Linked DNA regions of Homo sapiens: regions 2, 3, 4, 5, 6 and 7 are each linked to region 1. Evidence: fine-mapped QTL for protein levels in blood plasma. Region 1 holds a variant in brackets. A gene starts in each other region. All regions are shown on their reverse strands.

The links. PIP is the posterior inclusion probability: the model's chance that the variant is causal. The UK Biobank Pharma Proteomics Project read protein levels with antibody pairs (Olink). The fine-mapping took linkage between variants from a reference panel, not from the people measured, so its PIPs are less certain.
Region 2: it holds the start of SCG2, and the variant in region 1 is fine-mapped to the plasma level of the SCG2 protein (UK Biobank, PIP 0.97).
Region 3: it holds the start of COL15A1, and the variant in region 1 is fine-mapped to the plasma level of the COL15A1 protein (UK Biobank, PIP 0.97).
Region 4: it holds the start of CLMP, and the variant in region 1 is fine-mapped to the plasma level of the CLMP protein (UK Biobank, PIP above 0.99).
Region 5: it holds the start of HSPG2, and the variant in region 1 is fine-mapped to the plasma level of the HSPG2 protein (UK Biobank, PIP above 0.99).
Region 6: CLEC1A starts here. The variant in region 1 is fine-mapped to the plasma level of the CLEC1A protein (UK Biobank, PIP above 0.99).
Region 7: HAVCR1 starts here. The variant in region 1 is fine-mapped to the plasma level of the HAVCR1 protein (UK Biobank, PIP above 0.99).

The regions. Positions count from the first base shown.
Region 1 is chr16:20,378,620-20,382,697 of GRCh38, reverse strand. The region is part of intron 3 of PDILT (protein disulfide isomerase like, testis expressed); the gene reads left to right. Among named protein-coding and RNA genes, the nearest start is that of PDILT, 24 kb to the left of the region's middle. The variant C/T (reference allele first, on the strand shown) is at 1,688.
Region 2 is chr2:223,600,454-223,604,531 of GRCh38, reverse strand. It overlaps SCG2 (secretogranin II), which reads left to right and starts at 2,171. Exons shown (of 2, transcript NM_003469.5): 1 at 2,171-2,247.
Region 3 is chr9:98,943,603-98,947,680 of GRCh38, reverse strand. It overlaps COL15A1 (collagen type XV alpha 1 chain), which reads right to left and starts at 3,774. Exons shown (of 42, transcript NM_001855.5): 1 at 3,609-3,774; 2 at 3,431-3,519. The coding sequence starts at 3,619. It overlaps COL15A1-AS1 (COL15A1 antisense RNA 1), which reads left to right and starts at 3,029. Exons shown (of 1, transcript NR_198999.1): 1 at 3,029-4,078.
Region 4 is chr11:123,193,101-123,197,178 of GRCh38, reverse strand. CLMP (CXADR like cell adhesion molecule) reads left to right here and starts at 1,931. Exons shown (of 7, transcript NM_024769.5): 1 at 1,931-2,266. The coding sequence starts at 2,239.
Region 5 is chr1:21,935,390-21,939,389 of GRCh38, reverse strand. It overlaps HSPG2 (heparan sulfate proteoglycan 2), which reads left to right and starts at 2,080. Exons shown (of 97, transcript NM_005529.7): 1 at 2,080-2,235. The coding sequence starts at 2,173. RefSeq lists a silencer at 1,692-2,041 and an enhancer at 2,789-3,630.
Region 6 is chr12:10,096,755-10,100,832 of GRCh38, reverse strand. It overlaps CLEC1A (C-type lectin domain family 1 member A), which reads left to right and starts at 1,848. Exons shown (of 6, transcript NM_016511.4): 1 at 1,848-2,025. The coding sequence starts at 1,911.
Region 7 is chr5:157,056,703-157,060,780 of GRCh38, reverse strand. HAVCR1 (hepatitis A virus cellular receptor 1) reads left to right here and starts at 1,665. Exons shown (of 9, transcript NM_001173393.3): 1 at 1,665-1,860; 2 at 2,826-2,883. The coding sequence starts at 2,838.

The DNA.
Region 1 (4,078 bases):
CACACGGCCTGACACATACCTGTAGCATATACTGTGTTCCAGGCATTGTTCTAGACCCTTCTCCTATGTCATAACACCCCAATATAAGAGGTGCTTTTACAGATGGAGAAACTGAGGCACAGAAAGGTAGAATAACTTCCTCAAAGCTGCCCAGTGAGTAGTGGTGGAGTCAGCAAATGTTTTCTGCAAAGGCCCAGATTATTAATATTCCAGATCCTACAGGCCAGGCAGTCTCTGTTGTAACTACTCAGATCTGCTGATGCAATGTGAAGGCAGCCACGTGTTAACAAATGGGAATGACTGTGTTCCAATAAAGTTTTATTTATACAGTCAAACAGCAGGCCAGATTTGGACTACAGGCTATAGTATGTTGAAATCCGCTTTACATTGCGCTGTACTCTAAGCAAGAGGCAGATGTGTTCATTATTATTATCAGACTATTAGTTTTCTCATTCTAGTCCAATGCCTGGAACAATTAAGTTCTTAACAAATAGTTTTTGAGCCAGGTGCAGTGGCTCAACCTGTAATCCCAACACTCTGGGAGGCTGATATGGGAAGATCACTTGTGCCCAGAAGTTTGAGACCAGCCTGGTCAACATAACAAGACCCTGTCTCTACAAAAACCTTAAAACTTAGCCAGGTGTGGTGGCAGATACCTGTATTCTCAGCTACTTAGGAGGCTGAGGTGGGAGAATTGCTTGAACCCAGGAATTTGTGACTGCAGTGAGCCATGATTGCACCACTGCACTTCAGCCTGGGTGACAGAGTGAGATCCTGTCTCTAAATTTTAAAATAATAATAATAAAAGTTTTAGATTTTGAATACAATGGAATTGGAAGCACCCACTGCAGGTGGGCATAGGGTAAAGTACCCACCCATATTTCTGCTGGGCTTGCTTCCTCAGTATTACTTCTAACCAGAGAAAGGGCAAAGGGAATGCCAGGATGAAGCTGGGACAGGGATTGAGGATGCCTGGATTTTAGGATGAGCAGTAACCATGGGAACTTCAACGAGCCTTTTACAACCAGGCTTCCAATTTCTCTTTTTTTTTTTTTTTTTTTTTGAGATGGAGTCTCACTGTTTTGCCAGGCTGGAGTGCAGTGGTGCGATCTCGGCTCACTGCAACCTCCGCCTCCCGGGTTCAAGTGATTGTCTTGCATTAGCCTCCCGAGTAGCTGGGACTACAGGCATGTGCCACCACTCCCAGCTAATTTTTAGTATTTTTAGTAGAGATGGGGTTTCACCATGTTGGCCAGGATGGTCTCAATCTCTTGATTTCATGATCCACCTGTCTCGGCCTCCCAAAGTGCTGGGATTACAGGTGTGAGCCACCGCACCCGGCCCAATTTCTCATTTTCTAAACAGGATGAGTAAGGCCAGTTCTGCCTACTTGCCAGGGCTCCTCTGAGCTGAGAGGAGACAGTGCTTTACGCATCTTCTGCAATGTGACTTTGATGAAAACTCCTCTTAGGACACTGGTGGGATTTAGTCCTTGCAGGGTCAAAGCCCCAGTCCCATTCTCATCTAATCTCCAAGGATTGATGGCAGGAGACTTGGCCATGGCCATTGCTCTGGAAGGAGGGAGACTCAGGTTGCCTCTAGGCCTCTATTAATGATGCAGCCACAGTCTGTGCCTGGAAATATGCAGCCCAGTGCTGGTCCTAGTCAATCATTGACATTGCATTCA[C/T]ACCTCAGTTGTCACCGTGTCCTCTGGCACAGAGCCAAGCACCAAAGGAGGTCCCTGACAAGGGCAGTGCCTGATCTGCAGGCACAAAGGAATCAACAATTTGCAGAGTTCATAACTACCTCGGTCCCACAGGGGCCAGAGGGGCAAATGGAGCTCACACGTCCCCAAGAAGATGGCCCAAGATCAAGTTTCCTCAAGCCAGCTTCCCTGATGATTCATTCAGCCCATTCATTCATTCTAGAAAGATTTCTTAAGCATCTACTATGTGCCAGGCATTACAGGAGCTTACTGGGAGCTCACACTGAACAAGCTAGTGAAAAATCATTCTAATAATTTCAAGAAGGGATAGACTCAATGAAGAAAATAGGGTAGCTCGGCTGGGCACGGTGGCTCACGCCTGTAATCCCAGCACTTTGGGAGGCCAAGGCGAGTGGATCACGAAGTCAGGAGTTCAAGACCAGCTTGGCCAAGATGGTGAAACCCCATCTCTACTAAAAATACAAAAAATTAGCTGGGTGTGGTGGCGGGCACCTGTAATCTCAGCTACTCCGGAGGCTGAGACAGAGAATTGCTTGAACCCAGGAGGCAGAGGTTGCAGTGAACTGAGATCACACCACCGCACTCCAGCCTGGGCAACAGAGTGAGACTCCATCTCAAAAAAAAGAAAAAAAGAAAAAGAAAATAAAAGAAAAGAAAATAGAACAGGTCATAAGACAGAGAGTGATTGGCTAAAAGAAAAGAAGAACCAACTGAGAATTGAACAGGCAGAAGAAGGCACTGCCCTTGAAGAGCTGAGGAAAGGGCAGCCCATCAGGAGGGACAAGCCAAGGCTGAAGCCAGTGTTCTGGAAGATAACTGTAACGTTGGAGTGTGGAAAGGGCAGAGGGTGGCACAAAGTGACATCAGAGCAATGGTTCTGATGACCTGAAATTTAAATTCATTTGGCAGGTTTTGTTTTTGGATATTTTCAGATTTTGTAAATCAATTCCTTTTGGATCACTTACAATATACTTTTGCCAGACAAAAGCATATAAGAGAAACCATTTGTTTCCAAGTGTGACTTATTTTTACCTAAAGATGGCTGGAAACACTGTACAGAAACTCAGTGTTGAGGCTGATATCTCAGAGGAGGGAATTACAGCAGATGTGGGGTACCAAGGTCTGAGGGTGGCATGATGCCTCCTCCTTCTCTCTTCTCTTGAAGCCACCATATCAGCTTCACATGAATTTCCATAGGTTTGACTCATTGTGGCTTTTAACATGACCTTAACTATATCTACTAAAGTTGAACATGGCATCTGCTATGACCAGAAATTCTCCTGCTGGCTATACACCCAACAGAAGTGCATACAGTGTGCCCCAGAGACATGCACAAGAATTCATTCAGAATAGCCCCAGCCGGGCATGGTGACTCATGCCTGGAATCCCAGCATTTTGGGAGGCTAAGGTGGGAGAATTGCTTGAGCCCAGGAGTTCGAGACTGGCCTGGGCAACATAGCAAAACCTCGTCTCTACTAAAAATTGCTTAAAAATTAGCCAGGTGTGGGCTGGGCGTGGTGGCTCATGCCTGTAATCCCAGCACTTTGGGAGGCTGAGGCGGGAGGATCACCTGGAGTTCGAGACCAGCCTGGCCAACATGGTGAAACCCTGTCTCTACTGATACTAAAAAATTAGTGGGGTGTGGTGGCACGTGCCTGTAGTCCCAGCTATTCGGGAGGCTGAGCCAGGAGAATCACTGGAACCCGGGAGGCAGAGGTACGGTGAGCCAAGATTGAGCCCTTACACTCCAGCCTGGGCAACAGAGCAAGACTCTGTCTCAAAAAATAAAAATTAGCCAGGTGTGGTGGTACATGCCTGTAGTCCCAGCTACTCAGGGGGCTGAGGTGGGAGGATGGCTTGAGCCTGGGAGATCGAGGCTGCAGTAAGCCACGACTACACCACTGCACTCTAGCCTGGGTGACAGAAGGATAAACTGTCTCAAAAAAAAAAAATGCCCTAAAATGAGAGCAACTAAATGCCCATTAGCAGAGAATGGACAAATAAGTTGTGGGATATTCACAGCAGTGGAAATGAATCTTCAAGTACATGAAAAACTGTGGCTGAATCTCACAAACATAATGAAACCAGAGCCAAGAACATTTATATGAAGTTCAGGAACAGGCAGACTAATGTAATCTGTTACAAGTTAAGGTGGCAATGGAATACTACAAAGCCATAAAAAGGAATGAGATCGTGTCCTTTGCGGGGACATGGATGAAGCTGGAAGTCATCATTCTCAGCAAACTAACACAGGAACAGAAAACCAAACACACTCACTCATAAGTGGGAGTTGAACAATGAGAACACATGGACACAGGGAGGGGAACATCACACATTGGGGCCTGTCTGGGA
Region 2 (4,078 bases), not on the chromosome of region 1:
ATCTTGAGCCTAGTGGAGCCAATCCATCCCAGCAACAGCCTCCTGGCATCTCACATCTACTTGGAGATTTTGAATGAGGTTTTGCATGTCTTTTGGATGATTGAAGATATTTCCAGGCAAGATGTTGACTCTGGGGCTTTAGAAGAACCGTAGCTTCTGGTTCTTGCCAAAAAGTTTAGTTCCACATAAATGAATTAGCCTAGTCAGGATGACTTTCTGGAGGGCTTTTGAGACCTATGCTGAACAAACTCAACATTTTAAGAATAATTGCAGAGTTTTCTAAAGCTGCGTTGATACTGGTTAGTTGAACTGGTCACACAGAACTGCTGGACAGAAAATTAGGTCAAACTTGGAGCAGCTAGCCAGGGCTTTGTTAAGATTTAAGGCAATCTTAGCTAAGGATGTCAGTGAATGAGCTGGTGTCATTGAGATGATGCTTGAGAAATGGGTCATATTTAGGTCTCTTCAACCCAGCATTTGATCATGCCCTAAAAAACCACTATGAGGCAAAATTTGTTGGATGAATTGGACATATAACCCCAGTCTGAGTGTATATGAATTCATATCAATCCACAAATGATGATCTCCTAGTCGTTTAGGAAAACCAAATAGGGAGAATCGAGGCACATTTTTCCAAGATTTTTTCTGTAAGACTTTAAGCCATTTCCTATTTTTTCGAGGAATTCAAAAGTACTAACATAGTTAGAAATCCTTGTAAGAAAACCTGATAGTGAGAAATCTCAGCTTAGGCCTTTTATTCCAGGACATTGTTTCCCCCTGAATTTCTAGGTTGAACCCATTGGCTATCCAAATGGTCCAAACACTGCTAGCTAACCTCTCTATTGATGCTTTCCAATTTATATGAAAATTATGTGTTTATTTGCATGTCATCCCCATTAGCTGAAAGGCTCATCAAAGGCAAAAAAATCACTTATTTTTGTATTAGTTAACAATTGTGCATTTAGCAATGTATCTGGCACCTAGTAGGTATTACAATTTATTGAGTCAGTGGCTGATTGTTCATTTAGCAGAAACACATGGGATCTCTTATATGGCAAGATTCTGTTGCATTCTTAAAGTATATGTCAACATATACAGTTTTTAGAAACTCATATCTTTAATAAAATAAAGTTTAAAATTTATATCCATATAAATTATTGAAATATATAATCAGGTTATCTGGTAAGGCAGAGGAATGATTATGAATTATAAATCTGAGAGGTTGAAAGTTAATTGCTGTATTATTCCCTGGATTGTTCACATTCATGGAAGGTATTCAACTCATCTGATTCAACAGGAGAAGGGAAATATTTATAGTACAACTTCCTTTCGATTGCAAATGAATTCTAGTTACGTATGTGTCACATTTTTCCCAAACAGTGAAAAGACTTTTTTTTTAAGTAGATGAAAGTATTTTCATCAGCACTCAACTTCTGAGCTTCCCTTTCTGAGATCAGATATTGTGAAAGACAGTAACAGAGATATAAAGAATTATTAGCTACTAAGCTTGAAGTCTGATAAATACCCATTTAAAAAACTATATAAGCTATTAAAGTTGGCTCTCATATAAAAGAGAGAGAACTCTCTGTTTTATTCAAATAAATATGATTTTAAAAGAATGATGGCTGTGGTCATGATAAGAAATATGGCCTTTCATATTTATAATGTGTCCTCCATTCATCTTGGTTATAACAGGAAATGGTAATGTAATTTCTTTGTGGGCAAAGATGAAAAAATAATCCTTGTCTGTAAAACTTTCTTACAACGACGACAACAATTACAACAGTGACACCAAGAAACTATTATAACAAGTTGCTAGAACATAGATGAGATTGTCTTGCAATTAGCCATGTCTGTCTGACACACATTTCTTTCTTTGTAAGAGAAATCGTGCAGAGCAGTTTATTCCGTCTCAAAGATTTTGATAAAAGAAAAAGGAAAACTGCAATTTTTGCCACAAAAAGACAGGTGGCGTAAGCATGCAACTTTTTTTTCTTTTCTTTTCTTTCTTTCTTTTTTTTTTTTTTTAAATATAAAGTGATTATTTTCTCTTGGTTCTTTGAAAAACCTCGCTTGTGCTGGGGTTTGTGGCTGAACCCGGTGACGTCAGTGTGGCAGTGCGGAGTCAGGCGCAGCGGCTCCCTATAAGCAGAGGAGCTGTCCGTGTGCTGAAACGGCCCGAGAAGCTCGCCCGGAGAACGGGGAGGAATATGCTGTGGAGCTCCTCTGCCATATAAACAAAAAGAGGTAAGGCTGCTTTTCTCTTTGATTTATTGGAAAGTTCCAAATTGCATGCTCTTCTTTTAATTCCTAGCTGAGAAGAAAAAGACTGTTTGGCAAGCTTATGTCGATAGGATAACTGAATAGCAACCTGCTGCTCATCAGCCAATGTAAGGACACTACATATGTGTATATACATGATCGGGTCTATGCTTTATACTACTTGATGTTGGATATTTACTAACCAGAATGTTACTTAGATAATCATATAAAAAAGAGTGAAAAAGTTAAGGATTTTAGTGTCAATACACAGATTAATGTAAAGTTAACCAAGCCCAATATCTTGTTTCTTTCCAAAATTTATTATTTCTGCCACTAAGAGCCAGATACGAAGCCAGGGGTATAATTTATATGTTTAATATTCTTAACAGTAGGTTTCCAATGATACAAAGGCTGTCAAGCATGTTAGTCATAAAGGCAACCCATTTTGGAACTAGGTTTTTTTTCTTTGATATTTATCTTACAAGAGCTCTGAATTAACTAACCACATAAAATTCTTTTCTGAACTTGTATATTTGAAAGAGCTTACATTATTATCTCCTAATTTTAGTTCTAAGATGTTAACTTAGGATTTTCCTGAACACTGGATTCTTCCTTTTTCCAGGGCAAAATATTATCTTGGGTTGTAATTTGGCTGTGACCATGAATTACAGAGAAATGATCATTTTGAATACATGATGAAAATACTCATAACTTTGTAAATTGTTATTGTTATTGCTATAATTTGATTTAAAGAGGATGTTCAATATGTTGCTAAAGATTTTGTCTGGGACAAGTATTTCATTTTTTCTGTATCCCAACTAGTTGAATTGCTTAAATTACATATAGTCACCTGCATGTGTCAATGCTCTAGCCTGAATTCAACAGAAAAGACATTTTAACTTGAGAGATTTTAATGATAGCTATCAGGGGAAAAATAATGTTCTAATTATTTGGATTTCAGAAAATTCAATTTTAAATCAAACCCCATATAGAATAGTAGAGCTGTTGAAACATCTTTACTACTTGAAAGAGCTGCTACCTGGGAAAAGAATCCTTTGGGTCTCACTCAAAGGCAATAACTATGTCATTCAAACTGAAGCTGAATAGTTAAGCAAAGGGTAGCACTTCTTAGGCTGTGGTTTAAACAACTGCAATGAGTAGTCTGCTTCAACTTTACAGCAAAGTGCAGTTCCAAGATAATGATTTTAAAGATGAGCATATAATCCACATGTTAAGACTATTTCAGTATTGTGGCTTCAAAAAAAATAAGTTCAGTAAGGTTTTTAAGATTATTATTTCAAATGCCAATGTTGAAAGTTGATTACCAAAGCTACATTAATCCTGAAATAATATAAACAAGAGTGCATAATGTATTTTTATTTGAACCTCATTATTTTATGAATAAAATTACTTATAGTAAACATGTATTTATAATAAATATTTTGGAAGTATCCTCTCAAATGCCTTTCAAGATGTTTCTTTCAATAAATTAAGTACTCTGGTAAACGTGAATCATTTAAATAGGTATATACGTATGCTAAAATGTTTTCATAACTAAGCCATTATTGGGCTCTAAAAAACTGGAAACAAAATCATCAATATGATCTTGTGAACAATGGTATTTTCTACAATTGATGTCTAAGCTAACAGAAAATTGTATACATATAACTTAGCTTATCTATCACAAAACCATGATCTGGTAAAGATATGAACAAACTTGTAAACTCCTCTTACATTCATTTTGTTTACAACAAAATAGCCAATATTAAAATAGTTTTTTCAATGTTAGCAATATTAAATGTAAAACACATAAAAA
Region 3 (4,078 bases), not on the chromosome of region 1:
AATCAATGCCCTAAGAGGCCAGCAGCTTTTAAGTTGTGAGCTGTGTGCCAGCTCTGTACCAGGCTGGCTAGGAACCCCACCTTGAAGCCCCACCAGATCTGGGGCCTAGATGCTCTGGGAAAATACATTCTTTTATTTAAGAAGCAGCTTTATTGAGGCATAGCTTACATTCCATAAAATTCACCCATTTTAAATGTATAGTTAGATTATTTTAGTAAATTTATAGAGTTGCACAACTACCACCACAATCCAGTTTTAGAACACTCCCCAAAAAGTTTCCTCATGCCCCTTTGCAGTCAATCTCTGCTTCTGTTTTCTGTCTCTGTGGTTCTGCCTTTACAGAAATCTCATATATAGGGACTCTTACAATGTATTGCTTTTTAATGTCTGGCTTCTTTTACTTAGCTTAATGGTATTAAGGTTTATCCATGTTGTTGTAGCATTGATCAATACTTCATTCCTTTTTATTGCTGAGTAGTATTCCATTAAATGGATACACCTCATTTGTTTATCTATTCACCAGCTAATGGTGAATTTAACTTTATTTCCAGTTTTGGTCATTATAAATAATGCTGCTATGAACATACATATGAGTTTTTGGGTGGCCATATGCTTTCCTTTCCCTTAAGTAGATACTTAGGAGTGGAAGTTCTAGATTGTAGGGTAAGTATATATTTAACATTTTAAGAAACTGCCAAATCGTTGGGAACATGTATTTCCGCTCATAACAGCCCACTTACAAACATGCTTTCAGAAGCCACCCCACTTAAGCATACAGCATAGTGGTTACAAGTACAGATTCTGGAGTCAGACCCTCTGGGCTCAAATTGTGCTTATATTACTGAAGGCTACATGCCCTTGGGCAAAAGACTGTGCCTCAGTTTCCTCATCTGTAAAAGGGGATAAGACATGGGGTTGTTGTGATGATTGACTGAGCTCATTCATGGCAGGGCACTTAAAACACTGCTGGTTCATAGTGCTATGAAGTCTTGGCAATTGTTTTTTATAGCCAGTTGGGCAGTGGTCCTATGGAAGGAACAGCACCAGCCCAGAAGTTCACAGACGTGAGAGGGCTATTATGGATCTACCCAGTTACAGTCATGCGGCCTTGAGGAAGTCACATCCCCTCTGTAAGACAGAGCCCAATTTACTTCTCAGCACTGCTGGGTGGTGATTCCAGGGACGTGGTGAAGGTGACATTGTGCTTTGAAGACTGCACAATGCCATGCAATGGACTCATGTTACAATTGTGACATTCAGATTGTGGGGCTCATTGGAGACCATGGAACCCCTAAAGCCTTCTCCATCCGTGAAGCTCTTCTAACTACACACTAGGATGGTTAAGAGCAAGGACTCTGGAGTCAGACTGTCTGGTTCAAATCCCACCCCAGCCACTTAGAAGTCTTGTGACTTTGGACCTCTGTTTCTTCATCTGAAAAACAGAGATAGTAACTGTTCTCAGTCCTCACCTCCTGGAGTGGTTGTAAGGATTGGATGAATGAAATATGAACATGTTCACACCTCCACCTGGATATACAAAGTGTTTTATAAGTATTAGGGATATTAAATTGCATTACAAATGCAGTTTGCAGGAGGATAGTTTACATTTTTAGGAATCGTTTCACATCCCCAAAGGGGCACTGAAAACCCATCAGTTGCAAATGGCCCTCCTTAGACCGTTCTCAGCTCCTGAAGGTTTGCTGGCCCTCCCTTTTTACATTATAAATGGGAATAGGGCTTCCTTTGTGTTAGAAACAACAGCCCTGACACTGAGGGATCCCAGAGACACACACAGGAGGAGAAAGAAACACCAAAGTTCCTATCCCCAGATCCATCTTCCTTTTGGGAAACTGGAAGTTGCAGCAAAGTTCACAAAAGACCATGGAACCCAAAGTTGGCCTCTGCCACTGAGTTGGCAGGGCCCTATATCATATGCAAAATTGCAACTTTCTGACATGAGCCATGGGGCTGAGAAGCTAAAACTATACTCCAGCTGCCCTTTGATCTGCAATAAATGCCAGGCTGGACACTCTGGCAGGAAAAGCTATCATCGGATTTGGGTCTTGTTGCCCAGGAGACAATGGGCTGTCTTGGGCTTCTTCAGGCAAACAAAGAGTTAACCAAGGCCACCTTCTCAATCCCGTTTCCTTTGGGCCGACTAGAGGTTGTTTCCTAGACTTTCTGTTCCCTTATTCAATTGAAGATGTGTACTAATCCCCCAAATTCAAAGGGGAGGGGGTCAGAAGCTATAGAAAGCATGGCTCTTCTGCAAAACTGCATGGAGAAAGAGCTGAGCAAGGGCAAGAGCCTACAGACCTGGATTCAAGTCCTGGCTTTTGGACTGGCCACTTTCTAAGCTTCTCTCAACCTCAATGTTATAAAAATACCTGCATTGCGATGGGATTAATAGAAGCCCAAACCTCAGCACCGTGCAATATACCCTTGTAAAAAACCACACATGACCACTCCCTGAATCTAAAATAAAAATAAAAATACTTGCATTGCTTTCCAACACATAGTTACTGCAAGAATCAAGCAGTAATTTCTATCACTTATTTTGTGCCTAGTATATACTGGAATCATGGGAAGCACATTATTTCTAATTTCTCTAATATTCACAACATTTCTAGGAAGGTAAAATGGTCTAATTAATCGCCTTTTTCAGATGGGGAAACTGAGGCACAGAGCGATGAAATCCATTGCCCAAGATCACTCAGCCAGCCACAGTTCAAACCCAGGCAGTCTGACCTTAACCGAGGCCCATTTTAACTTAGGTCTACTTTAACTTATATCTTACTATTCAGCCAACCGCCTGAGTTCTGCTGGAGAAACTGAGGCCCGGGGAACGGAAGGGATCAGATCTCTGGCTTCCAGGCCACAGCTCTTTCCACCACCGGTGGAGCCACTGCCCATGATAGACGTGACCGCTTAGGTAACTCAGAGCTGGGTTAAGCAACCGAGCAATTCAGTTCCGTTATTTCTTGAGCAGCAAAAGCCCCAGATGTCCCTCCCGGTGTTCATGCTTCGCACCTGTGTGCGGAGAGGCACCAGACCTGCCCTTACCAGAAGCCAGCCAGCACGCACAACCTAAGCTGCTGGCGCTGGGTGCGCTGAGGCTGTTGGCGCTGGCGCTGGCGCTGTTTCTGAAGTCCCTCTCTGCCTAAGATTGGAGGCTCCGCACCCAGCTCAGACATCTCGGGTGCCCAGACAACGCTCCAACCGCCCCAGCTGCCCAGGGATCCCATTCACAGCTATAACCCCTGCACTGCCAGGAGGTAGCCGCCCGCGGGACCGCCAGTGCGCACTGAGTGGCAAGACTCCCTTTTATGTCCAGGAATGAGGCACGCATCGCAGCCGCGTCCGCCGCCAAAACCGACTTCCCCCACGGGCGCGGAGGCAGCCGGTGCCACCCTCCGACCGGGTTGCTTACCTGTCGCACCGCGGGTCTGGGTGACAGCAGGGAGGGGCGTGGAGACCGAGAGCAGCATCAGCAGACACCAGCACTGCCCGTTGTTCCTCCTGCAAGATGTGCCCGAGGGAGAAAAGGTGAGGCGGGCAAGAGTATTGGAGGGGCCCGGGACGCGAGGAAGCAGAGAAGCGGGTCTTACCTTGGTGCCATCTCGCGGGTCTGCGGAGCCCCGGAAGGCGCGCGGCTAGTCGAGCAGAGCGTTGGAGCTTAGCGGAGGACGAAGGGTCGCTGAGCGCTGGCCGCCGCGCTCGCCCTTCCTGCAGGGAACAAAGGCGGCGCTCGGCAGCGGCGGCGGCGGGCAGAATCCCGGCTCCCGGCCCGCGCCCCGAGTCACCCGCGCTCTGAAACCCGACTCCGCCGCGCCCTGCGCTCCCCCGCGCGCTGCGCACTCACGCCCGGGGGATACCGGCCGCCCCGGCCGCCTCCCCACGCCCCTTTCCCCCTCGACGGACGTGCGCTCGCCTCTGCTGCCTCCACCCGCGGCTGCCTTATGTAACCTGCGAGGAAAGCCCCGCGCCCGCGTTCGTTGGGGCAAGCGGGATGGGCTCCCTCCCGCCCTTAAGTCTGTCCTGTCGGGGCTGACCCGCAAGAAAGCACTCTTTCACAGCC
Region 4 (4,078 bases), not on the chromosome of region 1:
ACACTTCTCAATATAAAAAATAATATTTTTAAATATTAGAATATTAATATTGGAATAGAAGCATTTTAATTCTATTGTGATCTGGGGCAAGATATTTAGGCCTCTCTAAGTTATAGTTTCCTTGTCTTCCTATTCATGCTAAGGGATGGTGATTTTTTTTTCAGTGACTATCCCTTAGCAGTATAATAAGAATGATATAAAAAGGTCAATAATATGACCCAATAAAAACCACGTAATAATATAATATGATTCTGGGTCCATACTTGGTGTTCATGACATACTCCTCCCAGGTTTTTTTAAATGTCAACTTCCAAGTTCTACTCACTTTGTGTCCTCACACCTAAAAAAGCACCTGGCATAGTGTGGATGCTAACACATCGGTATCGAAGGGGTGAGGGAGTGAGTGGAGAAATGCTGCAATTCTAAAGCAATGCTCCAGCTGATCCGCGAGCCCTAGGAACAGCCCCAGCTTTTGCAAGTCCTCTGAGTGACCTTGTGAAACTTCCATAACCTCTCCAGGCCTTTGCTTTCCTAGTCTGCGAAATGGGACGGGTTTTCATTACACATTTGCATTTCATTGCAAATGTGTGACTCGGCAGCCCACCGGCCCCGGCGGGGTTCATCTTTCTTCTCAAGAGCGCTGGCCCCGGCTTCCAACCTGGGCTCTGGCGAGGCCGAAGGTGAGCGATTGCGTCATCATGCCTCTGGGCAGCTGAGGGAGAAGCCCTCCAGGGACATTCAGAGACTGGGACCAGAGTTTCTGAGAGGCCCTGGGCACAAGGTCAGGGCAGGAGGTCCAGGCAGCTGAGGTCTGAGCGCCACCCTCACTGCCCTTTCTTAGTCTCGCTGCCTCCCGCTGCCGCTGAGCAGCAGGGTAGTGAAGGGCAGACTCCCAGGGGCCGACCCTGGGGCGGGGCTGCTCGGCTCCGCGGAACCCACCGTCCGCCCCCGTCCGGCCGCCAGCCTCCTGCCCTCCGCGAGCCTCCTGGGCCGGGTTCCCGGAGCCCGGGCGCGCAGGCCCTGGCACCAGGGGGATTCTGCTCCCTCTGCCTTATGTTCTTTCTGAAAGGGGGTGGTGCACATTTTGGCCAGGGCCACGTGCAGAGCACTTTGCTGCAAAGCATCTCGATAGACCTCTTTCCACGGGGCTGTGGGTCCCCTTCCCCTGGGTGCTGGCTGGCTTAGCTCTGCTCGGGACCTGAGGGAGCGCTGCTGCAAATACCGACAGTAGAAAGCGAGCGAACGCGAAAGGCCCCAGGAAAGCCAGGCCAAGGGGGGTAGCCGGGTGCCAAAGCAGGCAGTCGGTGGGGAGAGCCCTGGTCGGCCGGCCGCTGGCTGCCTTCGCACCCACTTCCGCGCCCCGCCGTCGGCCTGGTCAGTCTGGTGGCTTTACACTAACAGAACCAGACGGGGAGGGAGAGGAGAGGCGAGAAGAGCGCAGAGGACAGAGGGGAGAGGGCATGAGGAGACGAGGAGGGAGAGGCAAGAATGCGAACAAGGAGACCTAGAGAGGAAGAGATGGAAGAGAGAAACGCCAGATTTGTGAGAGACGTGGAAGCAGAGAGAAACGAGAGTAAAAAAGAAGCGAGAGAGAAGTGGAGAGAAGGACCAAGTGAGAGCAGAGCTCTAGGAACGGACAAGGCCTCGTCCATGGGCTCTCAGCCGAGGTGTCACCAATGCCTCCTGCAAAGAATCAATCCTACGCCCGGCGCCTCTCAACCCACCCGCCTCTGCACGGCCCCAGGTCTCCCCCGGCCCTCCCTGCCCGGCCAGCTCACGCTTCTCCCCGACCGGCCCCCACCGCAAACCCCAAACGCCGCGCGGGAGGGAGGGAGGGAAGGAGGGAACAGCGAGAGAGAGAGGGAGGGGCTGCGGTAGGAGGCAACCATGTGGTTCCAGCTGAATTTTTTTTTTCCCTCTCTCTTTCTTCACTCCTTTTTCTTTCCAAACAGGGAAAAGTGTTCCACGAAGCGGTAGCGCCTTTTCGCCTCGCGTTTTCCTCCCTGACCCTGGTCCCGGCTCCCGTCCGGGCGCCAGCTGGTGGGGCGAGCGCCGGGAGCCCATCTGCCCCCAGGGGCACGGGGCGCGGGGCCGGCTCCCGCCCGGCACATGGCTGCAGCCACCTCGCGCGCACCCCGAGGCGCCGCGCCCAGCTCGCCCGAGGTCCGTCGGAGGCGCCCGGCCGCCCCGGAGCCAAGCAGCAGCTGAGCGGGGAAGCGCCCGCGTCCGGGGATCGGGATGTCCCTCCTCCTTCTCCTCTTGCTAGGTGAGTGCCTCTGGGAGGGCGGGAGTTTGGATGGCCGTGGGCAAACGCAGCCCTGCGTCCGGGAAAGACGCCGGTTCTGACCGGGTGTCCCTGCAGCCCCTGGAGTCAGCCGGCTTTTCAGTCCCTGCCTCCTGGCCACGGAGGAGCACATCTGGCAACCGAGGGCCGCCCAGTCGGCCATCGAGATTGTCTCGCACATCTGGGCCCTTGAACAGGCTTGGGGAACCGTTTGATGTGCAGGGTCCTCTTTAGGGCGGTGTTTAGTTTCTGGTGTATCTGGGAAAAGTGGAGAATTGGTGGAGGGAAGGTTTATCCAGGAATTTTTGTGCCAGGTTCCTGAGGGTGGGGGTTTTTTGTTGTTGTTTCAAACAGGCGCCTCCGAGGCTCAGATTAGAAACAGATGTGTTAAAGGGTGAGCAGAGTGGGGGATAGGCAGGGTTGGAGAGGAAAGGGGAGAGGGAAAAAGGGCAGGGCCCAAGGAGCACCAGGAAGATGCAAATGCCCCAAGTCACACAGGGAAGGAAGGAAAAGGGGAAAGGGGAAGGGTTGGGAAGGAGAGAGAAAAAGAGGAGAACAGGAATGTAAAACAGAAGAGCAAGGCTGGGGGAGTCCGAGCACAGAGAGTGAAGAAGACTTGGAAAAAACGCAGCAGAGGAACCAGAACAGAGGGAAATAGAGCAAGCACCACTTTTTCCTGAAACAGGCTCCAGAGCAAAGGGAAGAGTCCTCCTGAGCGTCCCTTCCTGGGGTCCCCCAGGCAGGACTCTTGGGGCCTCAGAGGCCCTGAGGCAGAGGCAGGTTTGCAGGAGAGGACATCAGGGATGTGGGTGGTAGGAGCCCACCGGAGTGACTGGAAATGTCTGAGGAGCCAGGGCAGGAAAGGCAGTCAGGGAGAGCCAAGGGCACGTCACTATGCACCCTGAAGCATGGGATCCACTGCAGACAGGCCCCACAGTTAGCTGGAGATCAGAAAATCAAAGAGCCAGCCAGTGGTCAAGAGTGAGCACTACCCTGAACACCAGGCCACGGGAGAGCTGGTCCTGGTTTTGAACTGACTAGCTGGGTGGCCTCAGACAACTTACTCCTTATCCAGGGCTTCCACGTCTTTAGCTCTGGAAAGAGAATACTAGATGGTTCCTAAGTCCCTTCTAGCCTACAACACCAGAGGTTTGAAGGAGGCTGGTGTCTAGAAGAACCACCAAATCCTGAAATACGTGGTTAGAGTTCTCTGTCTTTTTTGAAACTTTACAAACCAATTATACTGTATGCATACCCATCTTGGCCAGCCTCAGGCTGATAATCACTTAAGTTAGAGAAATGAAAGAGGTGGGCTAAGCCAAACTATTGCTCAAGTAAGGCAGGTGGGGAGGGGTTATTTTCTAAACTCTTTTAGACTTAACCAAATACTGCAATACTGTTCCTGTGCACATCTGGCGCAGCTGGATGGCACCTTGATTCCCTTTACTGGACTCTACCACTAGGTTACCAATCACCAGATATTTAGTAGAATGAAACTTCAGGGCTCTCTTATTAAAAACAGCTAATAGTCCTTGTTATATGAACACTTTATATGTACTATCTTGGTAATTCGTTTGTTCTTCACAACAAGCCTATTGGCTGCCCAGCCATCCTTGTTGGCTACCCTCATTTTACAGATGAAGAAACCAAGCTGTAAAAAGGCCAGGTAACTTGCTCAAGGCCACACACTCATAATTAGGGGAGACGGAATTTGAGCGCAGGCTGCCTGCTTCCAGAGAAAGCTTGCTAAAGCGCATTGCTTTACAGCCTCCTGTGGCTGCAGAGATTCTCAAA
Region 5 (4,000 bases), not on the chromosome of region 1:
TCTATCAGACTGAGAACAATACCCGGACAGGGACTATTCTTCCCCACACCTCTATCAGATTAAGAGTTTACTGAGGGCCAAGATTGGGCGTCCCTCCTCTGTCCACCCCTATCTCCCTGTGCGGATCAGAGATAGACCTTATTCAGTGCTGTGCCTGGAGCCTGGGTTGGGGCCAGGCAGTTGGCCTGACTACCGTGGATGCAATTTCTGTTCTTTACAACTCTGAGCTGGTCCCACAGAAATATGCCCCACAGGGCATATTTTGGAGATATCTTTTGGAGATAGGGGATCTATCTGGGATGGGGGTCAGGATGCCAGTGTTTTTTCAATCCCCCAGATGCCTGGATGAGAGGCCCCAATGTGCTTGGGAGCCTGCGGACCCCTATCACAGGGAACATAGCTTCCGGAGCCAGGCCTGGTGCCGCCCAGTGAGCTGGGCATTTCCTTCTGTCCACAGCTCACCTCACTCCTGGCTGCAAACCCAGCCATGAGTTTCTGGAACCTAGCAACTCTCACAGGAAACAATGGAAACTTCAGTTTTATTCTCCTCCTCTATCATTACTCAAAAGGTTTTCCTCAAAGCTACACACACATAGTTTTCCTCTCCACCCATCAGCCTCGGGCTGCCCTGGAAATTTCAGGCAGAAGAGGGGAGCTGAAGAGTAGGCAGTGAATAGGTCTGGGGGCTTGGTGCTGTTTGCTGCCTGCGGTTGGGTCAGAGACAGATCATGGGGCTGTGATTTTACCACCCACCCGAGCATCTGTGATGGGGCTTTGGCAGGGTCTGTCTGTCTGGGCCTGAGTGTGTGAGTTGGTGTGGTTCTGGCTCTGGGGCTGTGATTTATGTGACTCAAAGTTGGTGTGTGAGTGATTTACATGGAAAATGGTGCAGGTGGGGTGGGCAGCTCAGTTCAGTACCCAGTGCCCACTATGAGGCACTGTGATTAGTGGGTGAGAACAGGTAAAAGATACAGGCTGAGGCTGGGTGCGGTGGCTCAATGCCTGTAATCCCATCACTTTGGGAGGGCAAGGCGGGCAGATCACAAGGTCAGGAGTTCGAGACCAGCCTGGCCAACATGGTAAAAACCCCATCTCTATTAAAAATACAAAAATTAGCCAGGCGTGGTGGCACGCCTGTAATCCCAGCTATTCAGGAGGCTGAGGCCGGAGAATTGCTTGAACCCGGAGGCGGAGGTTGCAGTGAGCCAAGATCCCACCACCGCACTCCAGCCTGGGGACAGAGCGAGACTCCTTCTCAAAAAAAAAAAAAAAAAAAAAAACAAGCTGGTAAGCATGTAGGCAATGATGTGGGCCTGTGTGTGAAATGTGCGTGCCTGCGAGGAATCTATGTGAAAAGGCGTCCTCCCGCTCCGTGACTTGTTGGGATGTATGCGTGAGTGAGGGGCTGAGTGTGGTGTGAGGGCTGTCTCCTGTGTCCCTGGTGGAGGTGAGAGTTTGGAAGCGAGTTAAGTGTGCATGTGAGCCGGTGAGGATTGTTGGTACTTCAGAGTTGGGTCCAGAGTGTGAAAGTGTTCCCGGGTAGCGCACAAGTGTGTTCGTGCAGTAAAGTTATGGTGTGAAGGTGTTCTTGGGTGTGGAAGTTGGCGTGCACGTGTGGCGCGGAGCGGCAGCTGCGTGCGTGTGAGCGTGGGAAGGAGATCCCGGGATCTTCAAAAGCTGCGCGAGTGGAGTCGGCCGTGCGGGGCGTGCAGGGGCGTGGAAGTCGGCGGCGCGCGCGGGGAAGCGGGGGAGCCGGGGATCGGGGAGGCGAGAGCGCCTGGCCCGGCGGCCCCATCCCATGCCCGGGCCCGGGCCCCCGGTCCCCCGCCCCGTCCCATCCCATACTCCAGGCCGGGTTTGGCGGGGAGCCGGGCCGGGCCGCGGCCCGCGCGGAGGGGGCTGGGGGCCCAGACAAAGGCCTAGTAGGCTGCGCGGCCGGCTGGGGCGAGCAGAGCCCGCGGCCCGGGGGCGGTCCGTGGGCGGGGCCTGGCGCTCCGGGGAGGGGCGGTTCGGGGGCGGGGCCGGCGCTGCGGGGGCGGGGCGGGCGGGGAGGAAAGGGGGCGGTGGGGAGAGGGCCGCGCTGTCCCGAGCTGGCCGGCGAGCGGGCGGCTGCGGGCGGCGCGGAGCGGGCGGCGCGGAGCGAGCGAGCGAGAGAGCGGCGCGGGCCGGGCCATGGGGTGGCGGGCGGCGGGCGCGCTGCTGCTGGCGCTGCTGCTGCACGGGCGGCTGCTGGCGGTGAGTGTGCGGGGCAGAGGGGCGGGGGGCGGGGGCGGAGGGGCTAGGGGCGCCCCGGTCCCGCTCGCCGCCTCCCGCCAACTTGGCTGGGGCGCCCAAGGCTGCGCGGCGGGGACTCTGGCCCGGGACGGCGGCGCCCGCCGGGGACCCCGGGCCGGCGCCACCCTGCGGCATGGGGCTAATCCAGGGGGGCCACCAGTCAGGACCCTTCGTGGGGCTGGGGGCGGGGCTGGCCCGTGTGGGAGCCCGTGGGTCTCTCGGCCACGTTGCCGAGTGCTGGAGTCTCGCTGGGCATGGTCCGGCCTACCATTCCTGGGGACCAGGAGGGGAAACTTTGAGCAGGGTGGGAACTTGGCAGGACGAGGGAACCCTTCTGCGCCAGCTTGGCAGAACGGCCACTCAGTGGTGATGGGGACCCTATGAGTCTCGCTGAAACTTTACCACACCGTCTATCACCTTGGGGAGCTTGGACCCAGGTAGGCACAAGCAAAACTTTTGGGACAGAACTGAAGCTTGTGTGGAACACCCACGGGCCTTGGAGTCATACAGCCGAAGAGTTGAATCAATCCCTGCCTTTCACTGAGTAACTGTGTGACCTGGGGCACGCTAGTTAACCTCTCTGAGGCCAGCCCCACGTGGGTCAAGGGAACTCAAAATGCACGGCCTCAAAATGCATAGCTGCAGGGCGTTGCTGGACTGCGTGGAATGAGCTGCAAAGTGCGTGGTGCGGGGATGCAGTGCACCCTTGGGGGACCCGAGTTCCCCAGCTTTCCTCTTCCCAGGTCTCCAAGAGGCAGGGAGAGGCCTGCCCTTGCAGTCTAGTCCCCTACTCTGAGCTTAGGTGGAGGAAAAGGGAATTCTACGGTCAGGAATCCCGAGGCTTAGAAGGCACTTGGCCAGCAGAGGCCCTGAGGACCTGAGTGAACTTGAGGAGGACTGGGTGGGGTCGGTGGGCAGGGAGCTAGTGGCAGATGTGGGTGGGGGCACATCTGGGGAGCCGAGCCTACCGTGGGGAGCCACAGAGCCACCCCCACTCTCTCCGAGGTGCTCCTAGGCAGTCCCCATACCTGCCTCCCTGTTCTCTGAGCCAAGAGAGGGACTTTTCTAACCAGGCTGGTGTTTACCCAGGAACTGCCTGCCTGGCCTCACCTTCCTGGCTTCATCGCACCTCTACCCTCCTGAGTCACTCGTCAAGCCCCCACCCAGACCTGGCTCCTCACTGCTCTTGCCCCACCCACCCAGCACTTCTCCTCCCCCATCCCCACTCTGGGCAGCCTCCTCTGTCGTCCTCCTGTTTCAGCCTCTCACCCCAAAATATTCAGCAGGGCCATCCAGTAGCTCCCTAGTCTTGACCTGAACTTGCACTCCTGGCACTGACTTTTACTTTTCCCAACGCACCAACCTAGCACGTGGGATGTTTTCCGAGGCCCAACAGTCTTTCCTGACCTTCCCCCAGCTCTGCCCCCGATGAGGGGCTCCTCCATGCCCGGGTGCGGTAGGATGGCGGTGGGTGGAGTTGTTTGCTGTGTGCATGAGGAATTTCCACAGACATTCCTGGACCGTGGCAGATCATCTCATTCACTTGTTCATTCAACAGATCATCACTGAGCGACATTCCATGGCAGTCACTGGGAGTACAGAGGTTCATTCTTTGGGCAGATATTTGCCATGCACCTACTGTGTGCCAGTGAACCAGTGAACCTCGTGTGGTGCTAGGGGCTGGGGTGGGTTGGACCAGCAAGGACAGGCCCTGTCTGTGCCTTCC
Region 6 (4,078 bases), not on the chromosome of region 1:
CTGTTCAGTTCCTGTGTTGCTTCTTGGGAAAAGAGTTCACAGTGAGAAGGTTTTTTTTTTTTTTTTTTTTTTTCAGATGGAGTCTCGCTCTGTTGCCCAGGCTGGAGTGCAGTGGTGTGATCTTGGCTCACTGCAACCTCCGCCTCCCGGATTCAAGTGATTCTCCTACCTCAGCCTCCCCAGTAGCTGGTATTATAGGCACCCGCCACCACGCCCGGCTAATTTTCATATTTTCAGTAGAAACGGGGTTTTGCCATGTTGGTCAGGCTGGTCTCGAACTCCTGACCTCAGGTGATCCACCCACCTCAGCCTCCCAAAGTGCTGGGATTAAAGGCGTGACCACCATGGCTGGCCCACAGTGAGAATTTTTTACTCACTATTTTGTCCTTCCAAGTGGTAGAGTCATGCTAACACTGCCTCCAATCTGCCATCTAAAAAAAAAAAAATTCCAATTTTTAAAAAATTTAGAATAATTTGATGAACAACAAACAGCTTGAAACACATGTGAATCCACAATGTGCACTTCCTCATAGATCTTTTATATGGTCTGGCTACCCCAACTGGAGCATTCTGACACTCCTTTATATTTAGCATGCTTGATTTTGCCCACCTATCACCTAACATCTGGAAAAGTTTTGGTAGAGTAATATAAGTCTATTGTACAGATTCAGGAAGAACTTTTAGACATTATCTAAAACAATCTTCTTGTCTTTCAGTTTAGGAAATGTAGATGCAAATTGTTAATTGTCCTCCCAAAGGCACAAGGTTGTTACTGATACCTGTCTTGTTATGGTTTGAATGTGTTTCCTGCAGAATTCAGGTGTTGCCAGTGTGGTAGTATTGAGAGAGGTGGGGCCTTTAAGAGATGATTAGTCCTTGAAGTCTTCTCTCTTGAGGATGGTATTAAGGCCTTTATAAAAGACGCTACATGTAGCATTTGGCTGGCTTGACCTTCTGCTTTCTGCCACGTGAGAATACCCTTCCTCCTCTACAGAGAGTGCAGCTCTCACCTGACATCCAAACCTGCCAGTGCCTTGATCTTAGATTTCCCACCTTCTGGAATGCTGAGAAATACATTTCTATTGCTTATAATTTATCTGGTCTCAGGTATCCTGTTGTAGGTCAGCACAAACAGACTAAGATGGGAATATAATTCTAATGTACTGATTCAGGAAGAATTTTTTCACATTACCTAAAACATTTTCTTCTCAGTTTAGGAGATTTAGGCACAAATGAACTGGCTTCCCCAAACCACATGGTGGTTAGTAATAGTTTTAAAAGTTTTTACTTCCAGTAAATTGTATAATTCCTCGTGATCATAATGTACCAAATGTGCTATAAAATGTTGAATCAAGTTCAGATACTATAAGAAAGACCACTACTCTGTTCTTGGAGAAAGGAAGGGGCTAGGTCCTATAATCTCTTCTCTTTTCACAAAGACACAGAGAGGTTAAACTAAGTGACTCCCTAAAGGATGGGTAAGAAACAGGGATGTGTGTCCTTCCAAGTTATTATTATTCTGCAGACTCTGAAGGAACCACAGTGCTACACCGTGCTATTGTAAGTTCTTGCCTTCTTTACAGTGAAGTTACATGAGAAATGCAAACAGGTAAACAAAAAAGACCTGAGAAAGGCCAACTTTTTGACAACTGTTTAGACTGAGACGGCCTAAACAGAAAACACATGCTATTTCCCCTCAGCCTGACTGATTTGGCATTCAGAGTACAAGCTCACAGGAGAGGGGCTGGGCCTGTCCAGTCAGGAATTGCAGTCAGAGACTTTCCCTGCCCCTCGCTGGGAAAGAACATTAGGAATGCCTTTTAGTGCCTTGCTTCCTGAACTAGCTCACAGTAGCCCGGCGGCCCAGGGCAATCCGACCACATTTCACTCTCACCGCTGTAGGAATCCAGATGCAGGCCAAGTACAGCAGCACGAGGGACATGCTGGATGATGATGGGGACACCACCATGAGCCTGCATTCTCAAGGCTCTGCCACAACTCGGCATCCAGAGCCCCGGCGCACAGGTACCCTGTCTCCTGGAGTCCAAATAGACCACAGTCCTTGTGAAATGTGTGAGATGATCTATCCCTCCTAGAAATGGAGATATTTAGCTTGCATCTTATAATTTTATTTCCAATTACTCGCCCTGTGACATAGTAGTGATTTTTTTTTTTCAGTTATATTCAGTTCCATAATTCCCACACTTAGAGAAGGATTTTATTTCCTGGGCCACTCAGCCAATCTAAAGCTAAAATATGACTTCAGTTCTAGTGAAAAGGACTCACATGGTAATATACACAGGACTAGGTTCTAGGTCCTAAACCAGGTATGCCACTTTCCTTCTGTGTAACTTTGGATGAGTTGTTTAAGTATCCTGGTAGCATCATATTCTTTATTTATAAAATATTAACGGCCACAAACATGTATAAAGGGCTCATTATGTGCTGGCAGTGTTTTAAATACTTTAAGTATATTAATTCATATTAACTTGACTTAATATTAAATAGAAGTAATAAAACTTCCTTTACAAGGTGGTTGTGAGTACTGAGAATGATAAATTATGTAAAATATTTGAATGTCTGTCTGATCTGATATAGACTGACACAAAATTGCTGAAAGGAACACTTTAGGTTCTTAAGAAATGGAATGTTGAAAGGAATCCCACATTTTAACATTCATTCAGTGCCTGTGTTTTAATATGCCCTTTCCCTTCTGATTATATCATTGTTTTCTTCACCTTTGTAAATCTGGATATACCTTTAAAAAAAAAAAACTATCCTGTTCCTTATTTCTTTATCAAATAACTTTTAGTTTTCCTTCCTTTCTCCTACTAAACCCTCCATTCACTTTCTATTTATTTCTATTTATTAAATGACCCTCCACCTGAAACCTACTAATATGGCTTTTTTTTTTTTTAACTAAACTACCCAGTAAGCTGTTAAGGGACATTGGGGATTTCCAACCTCTTTGAAATGAAGCTAAGTGACAAAAGTAGGGATGTCAGCTTTTGTAGCCACAGGATATGTGTAATAGGATACAAAGCGTTTTCCTCCAAAAAAACTTACGAAGAGTCCATTTTTACGGCTGTGGTTTTGAGTAGCTTGTATATAACTTCATTTTCCACCTTTGACTGGAGCCAGGAACTCTGTCAAGGACTAGAGATCAGCATAATTAAGAACAGCATGTACAAATAAGTTCTGCTGAGGTTGAAGGGTGGAGAGGGAGGTGGAGCAAGATAAAACACTAGCTGCAACATCTGGGAGCTTCTTTGTAAGAAATGGATATTGAAACAGTAGAAGTGGAGATTACAAAGAATTGTCTTGGAAGAAATCATCTGGAAATAGTTATCTTAGGCAACATATATGAGATCTTGTTTTCATCTTTTTATGGTAATACAAACATTTAGGGGAATACCATCATAGAAGTATAATTATTTCTTAGATAAACATATCTGATATACCTTCGCTGATAAAAATAACAGCAGAAATCACTCAGAAATTTTCGGCAATGTGGAGGATTCAGATTCAACATAATGATGTGATACCATTAAGAGCTGGCAACTTTTATTTTTTAGAATTAATAAAAATAAATCACACACACATTCATTTAATTTCTAGACTTTTGTCAATAACAATTGACGTAACAACTATGTTTGTGTTTAAAAATGCCAAACAATTAAGATAGTAAAAATGCCAAACAATTAAGATAGTGAAAATGAAAAACAACAACCTCATACATTTTTCACAAACTTATGTTTGGGGTCATGTTATCCTAGTACTGAGGATATAATGTCCAATGTGATATGGTCCCTGTTCATAAGGAAATTGAAAGTCTAATACAATTCTCAACTAAGGAGTAAGTATAATAAGGTGTTATGGCAGAAGCATGTACAGTACAGCCGAGAGCTTAACCAAGCTCTCGGCTTAATTTTTACCTAATTAAGTAGAGGAGTTCAGGAAAGGCTTAACAGAAGGAGCAACTGTGGAGTTGAGTTAATTTTAACATCTTCCACATAATAAGGAATCGGGAGTGAGGGTGTTTGAGAGGCTGGGGACACTATAGACAGAGAGACGTATG
Region 7 (4,078 bases), not on the chromosome of region 1:
CAGAATCGATCCTATGGAATTCAAATTCAAATCCTATGGAATTGTACAGTTATGTAACATCTCAGAGCACTGGCTCCACATCCCTGTCTTGGCTCTCTGTGGCTCATCAGTTCCAGAATAACTCCGTTACCAGAATAACTCCATTACTAAAATTCTACCGGGCAGCACTCTATAGGAGGGAATAGAGACAGACACCACATATATTGCACACACAGATAAAATGGATTAAGGAAAACAAGATAATAATAGTGAGAGGGACTGGTTGGCTACTTTAGATTGAAGGACCTGTGAAAAATGTCCAGGGAGGTCATATTTAAGCCGGGATAAAAATGAAAAGGAAAAAAGTGAAAATGGTGGGGCTGGGGAGCTAGATGGAGAACACAGCCACGGAAAAGGCCTTAGGGTTGAGGCAAGTTGGAAAGAAAGCTCTAGTAGCTGGGGCTGAGTCAGCAGGGGAGAGAGTGGTAGAAGAAATCTATGGGGTAGGTCAGGGCCAGACCACCAGGGCTTCAGTAATTTGAGTAAAGATTTAGGAATTATTATTATTATTATTATTATTATTTTTCTGAGAGAGTTATGAGAGGGTTATAAGTGGGGGAATGATGTAGTCTGATTATATATTTACCTTTACCTCACTTATCCTGATTTCATTAGTTGCTTACTTACCCATGTCCCTGCCCGATTGCACAAGTCTGGATTTTTGACGTCCCTAGTATATTGAGTCATGTCCCATCAGCTCAATATGTTAGTAATAACTGGTTGAATTGAATTAGCTTTTTTTTTTCAATCTTTTTTTCCTTAAGAAACAGGGTCTTGCTCTGTCACCCCGGCTGGTGTGCAGTGGCACAATCATAGCCTCCAACTGCTGGGCTCAAGCAACCCTCCTGCCTCAGCCTCCTGAGTAGCTGGGACTACGGTCAGGTACACAAGGCCTGACTATATTTTTTGTTCGTTTTTTTTGCAGAGAGGGAGTCTTGCTATGTTGCCCAGGTTGGTCTCAAACTCCTTACCTCAGGTGATCCACTTGCCTTGGCCTCCCAAAGTGTTGGGATTACAGGCGTGAGCCACTGTGCCTGGCAAGAAATGAATTTTTATTTTTATTTTTGAGATGGAGTTTTGTTCTTGTTGTCCAGGCTAGAGTGCAATGGCTTGATCTCGGCTCACTGCAACCTCCACCTTCCAGGTTCAAGCAATTCTTCTACCTCAGCCTCCTAAGTAGCTGGGATTACAGGCGCCCGCCACCACCCCCAGCTAATTTTTGTATTTTTAGTAGAGTCGGGGTTTCACCGTGTTAGCCAGGCTGGTCTTGAACTCCCGACCTCAGGTGACTGGCCTACTCGGCCTCCCAAAGTGCTGGGGTTACAGGCACGAGCCACCATGCCCGGTCAAGAAATGAATTTTTAAACGCTGCCATACAAAACACTATGCTGAGATCATCCACTTCCCCATGAACCCTGTCATGAGCTGCAAGATACAGACCACCACTGCCTCCTTGGAAGTTACTGAATTCTTAGACCAGAAGAGGAGTTAATGAAGTACTAGGCAAGCTTACTCATGTTTGTATGGTTTAATGATTAACAGCAGAAGTCAACAGCCCGATTTAACGCATGTGGGTGCTTGACACAGAGCCTGCTATATAGTATTCTCCAAAAACCTCAGCTAGTGCTATTACTGCATATGATGTAGGTTTAGTTTTCCAAGTTCTTCCGTGGCCCTTTTTGCTTATTATATCAATCCTTGGTGGGAGATAGAGGAAGCATTTTTAGTGCTATTTTACAACTGAGGAAATAGAGGTTTGAAGAGAACTCAGGAACTCTCAGGGTTACCCAGCATTGTGAGTGACAGAGCCTGGATCTGAACGTAAGTCTGCTCCAGACTTCTGTTTCCTGAAGCATTCTCTTGAAGTCCCTTGGTAAGGAGGTGTAGTCTGAAGCATGTTGTACAGGAGCATGAAAGGTTAGGCACAGTGATTCACATTCACTCTCAATTTCTCTTGCTAATGGCAAACTTGGCAATATGACTGTTAAGGCTAGGGATAAGTCGTTGTGGCCACTGAGTAGGAAAAGCTCCACGTCCACCAGAGGCCCAGTTTACTCTGAAAAGCAAGTGCATCTCTGCCACTGGAAGGCTGGCATTTGCTCTCGTGCTGCCATTGAGCCACGCTGGTTCTCTGCTTCCAGTTTCCTTTTCTTTTCTTTTTTTTTGTTTTGTTTTTTGAGACGGAGTCTTGCTCTGTCGCCCAGGCTGGAGTGCAGTGGCGCGATCTCGGCTCACCGCAAGCTCCGCCTCCCGCGGGTTCACGCCATTCTCCTGCCTCAGCCTCCCGAGTAGCTGGGACTACAGGCGCCAGTGACCACGCCCGGCTAATTTTTTGTATTTTTAGTAGAGACGGGGTTTCACCCTTTTAGCCAGGATGGTCTCGATCTCCTGACTTCGTGATCTGCCCGCCTTGGCCTCCCAAAGTGCTAGGATTACAGGTTTGAGCCACCGCGCCCGGCCCTGTTTCCTTTTTGTTTGTTCCCCTGATACCCTGTATCAGGACCAGGAGTCAGTTTGGCGGTTATGTGTGGGGAAGAAGCTGGGAAGTCAGGGGCTGTTTCTGTGGACAGCTTTCCCTGTCCTTTGGAAGGCACAGAGCTCTCAGCTGCAGGGAACTAACAGAGCTCTGAAGCCGTTATATGTGGTCTTCTCTCATTTCCAGCAGAGCAGGCTCATATGAATCAACCAACTGGGTGAAAAGATAAGTTGCAATCTGAGATTTAAGACTTGATCAGATACCATCTGGTGGAGGGTACCAACCAGCCTGTCTGCTCATTTTCCTTCAGGCTGATCCCATAATGCATCCTCAAGTGGTCATCTTAAGCCTCATCCTACATCTGGCAGGTAAGTGAGTAGGTGCCCTGGGCGGGAAGAAGGGAGTAGAGGGGGGTTAGAAGCCAGAGAATGGGGTAGGGGAAGGGGAGGGGATGGTGGTGGTGGATTAATGTAGATGTTCTTTGGGTACCGTTGTATGGCTATGAGTTAACTAGTGAGCAGGACCAGAATAAAGTTTTAGGCCAAAGAAATTGCTTAACTGCTGTGAATTACAACATTCATGGCTAAATGAACAAGGCAAGATGCAGCACAGTGTGTCACAGGCTGCCCTTTGTGTTTAAACAAAAAGGGTGTGGTTAGATGTATATGCATAGACACATGTATATAGGAAATAGTGACAGTGGGTAATGTGGGATGGGGGCAGAGGGTGGGAGGTGGAGGGAGAGTTAATCCTTATTGTATTTTTTTGTGCCTTCCGATTTTTTTCAGCCACATTCAATTCTCTTTCTTTCTTTCTTTCTTTCTTTCTTTCTTTCTTTCTTTCTTTCTTTCTTTCTTTCTTTCTTTCTTTCTTTCTTTCCTCTCTCTCTCTCTCTCTCTCTCTTCATGAGGTCTCACTCTGGAGTGCAGTAGGGCAATCTTTTTTTTTTTGAGACAGAGTCTCACTCTGTCGCCCAGGCTAGAGTTCAGTGGCGTGATCTCGGCTCACTGCAGCCTCCGCCTCCTGGGTTCAAGCAATTCTCTGCCTCAGTCTCCCAAGTAGCTGGGATTACAGGTACCTGCCACCACTACCAGCTAATTTTTTTGTATTTTTAGTAGAGACAAGGTTTCCCCATCTTGGCCAAGCTGATCTTGAACTCCTGACCTTGTGATCCACCTGCCTCGGCCTCCCAAAGTGCTGGAATTATAGGCGTGAGTCACCGCGCCTGGCCTAGTTGGGCAATCTTGATTCACTGCAACCTCGACCTCCTGGGCTCAAGTGATTCTCCCACCTCAGTCTCCCAAAGTGCTGGGATTATAGGCGTTAGCCACCACATCTGGCCTAAGTATTTTATTTTGAAATAAACACTTTAATTCAAAACATTCTATGAGATAAGGAAAGAGTAAAATAGACATATCCTAATTTTTAAACACAAATTTCTGGAGTGATATATGCCTTTGGGATTATGGGGGAAAAATAATCTCTCATTATATACTTCTATAACCAAATTGTAATAGCATGCATTATATGTGTAATCCAAAAAAATGATACTAGTATTAGGCA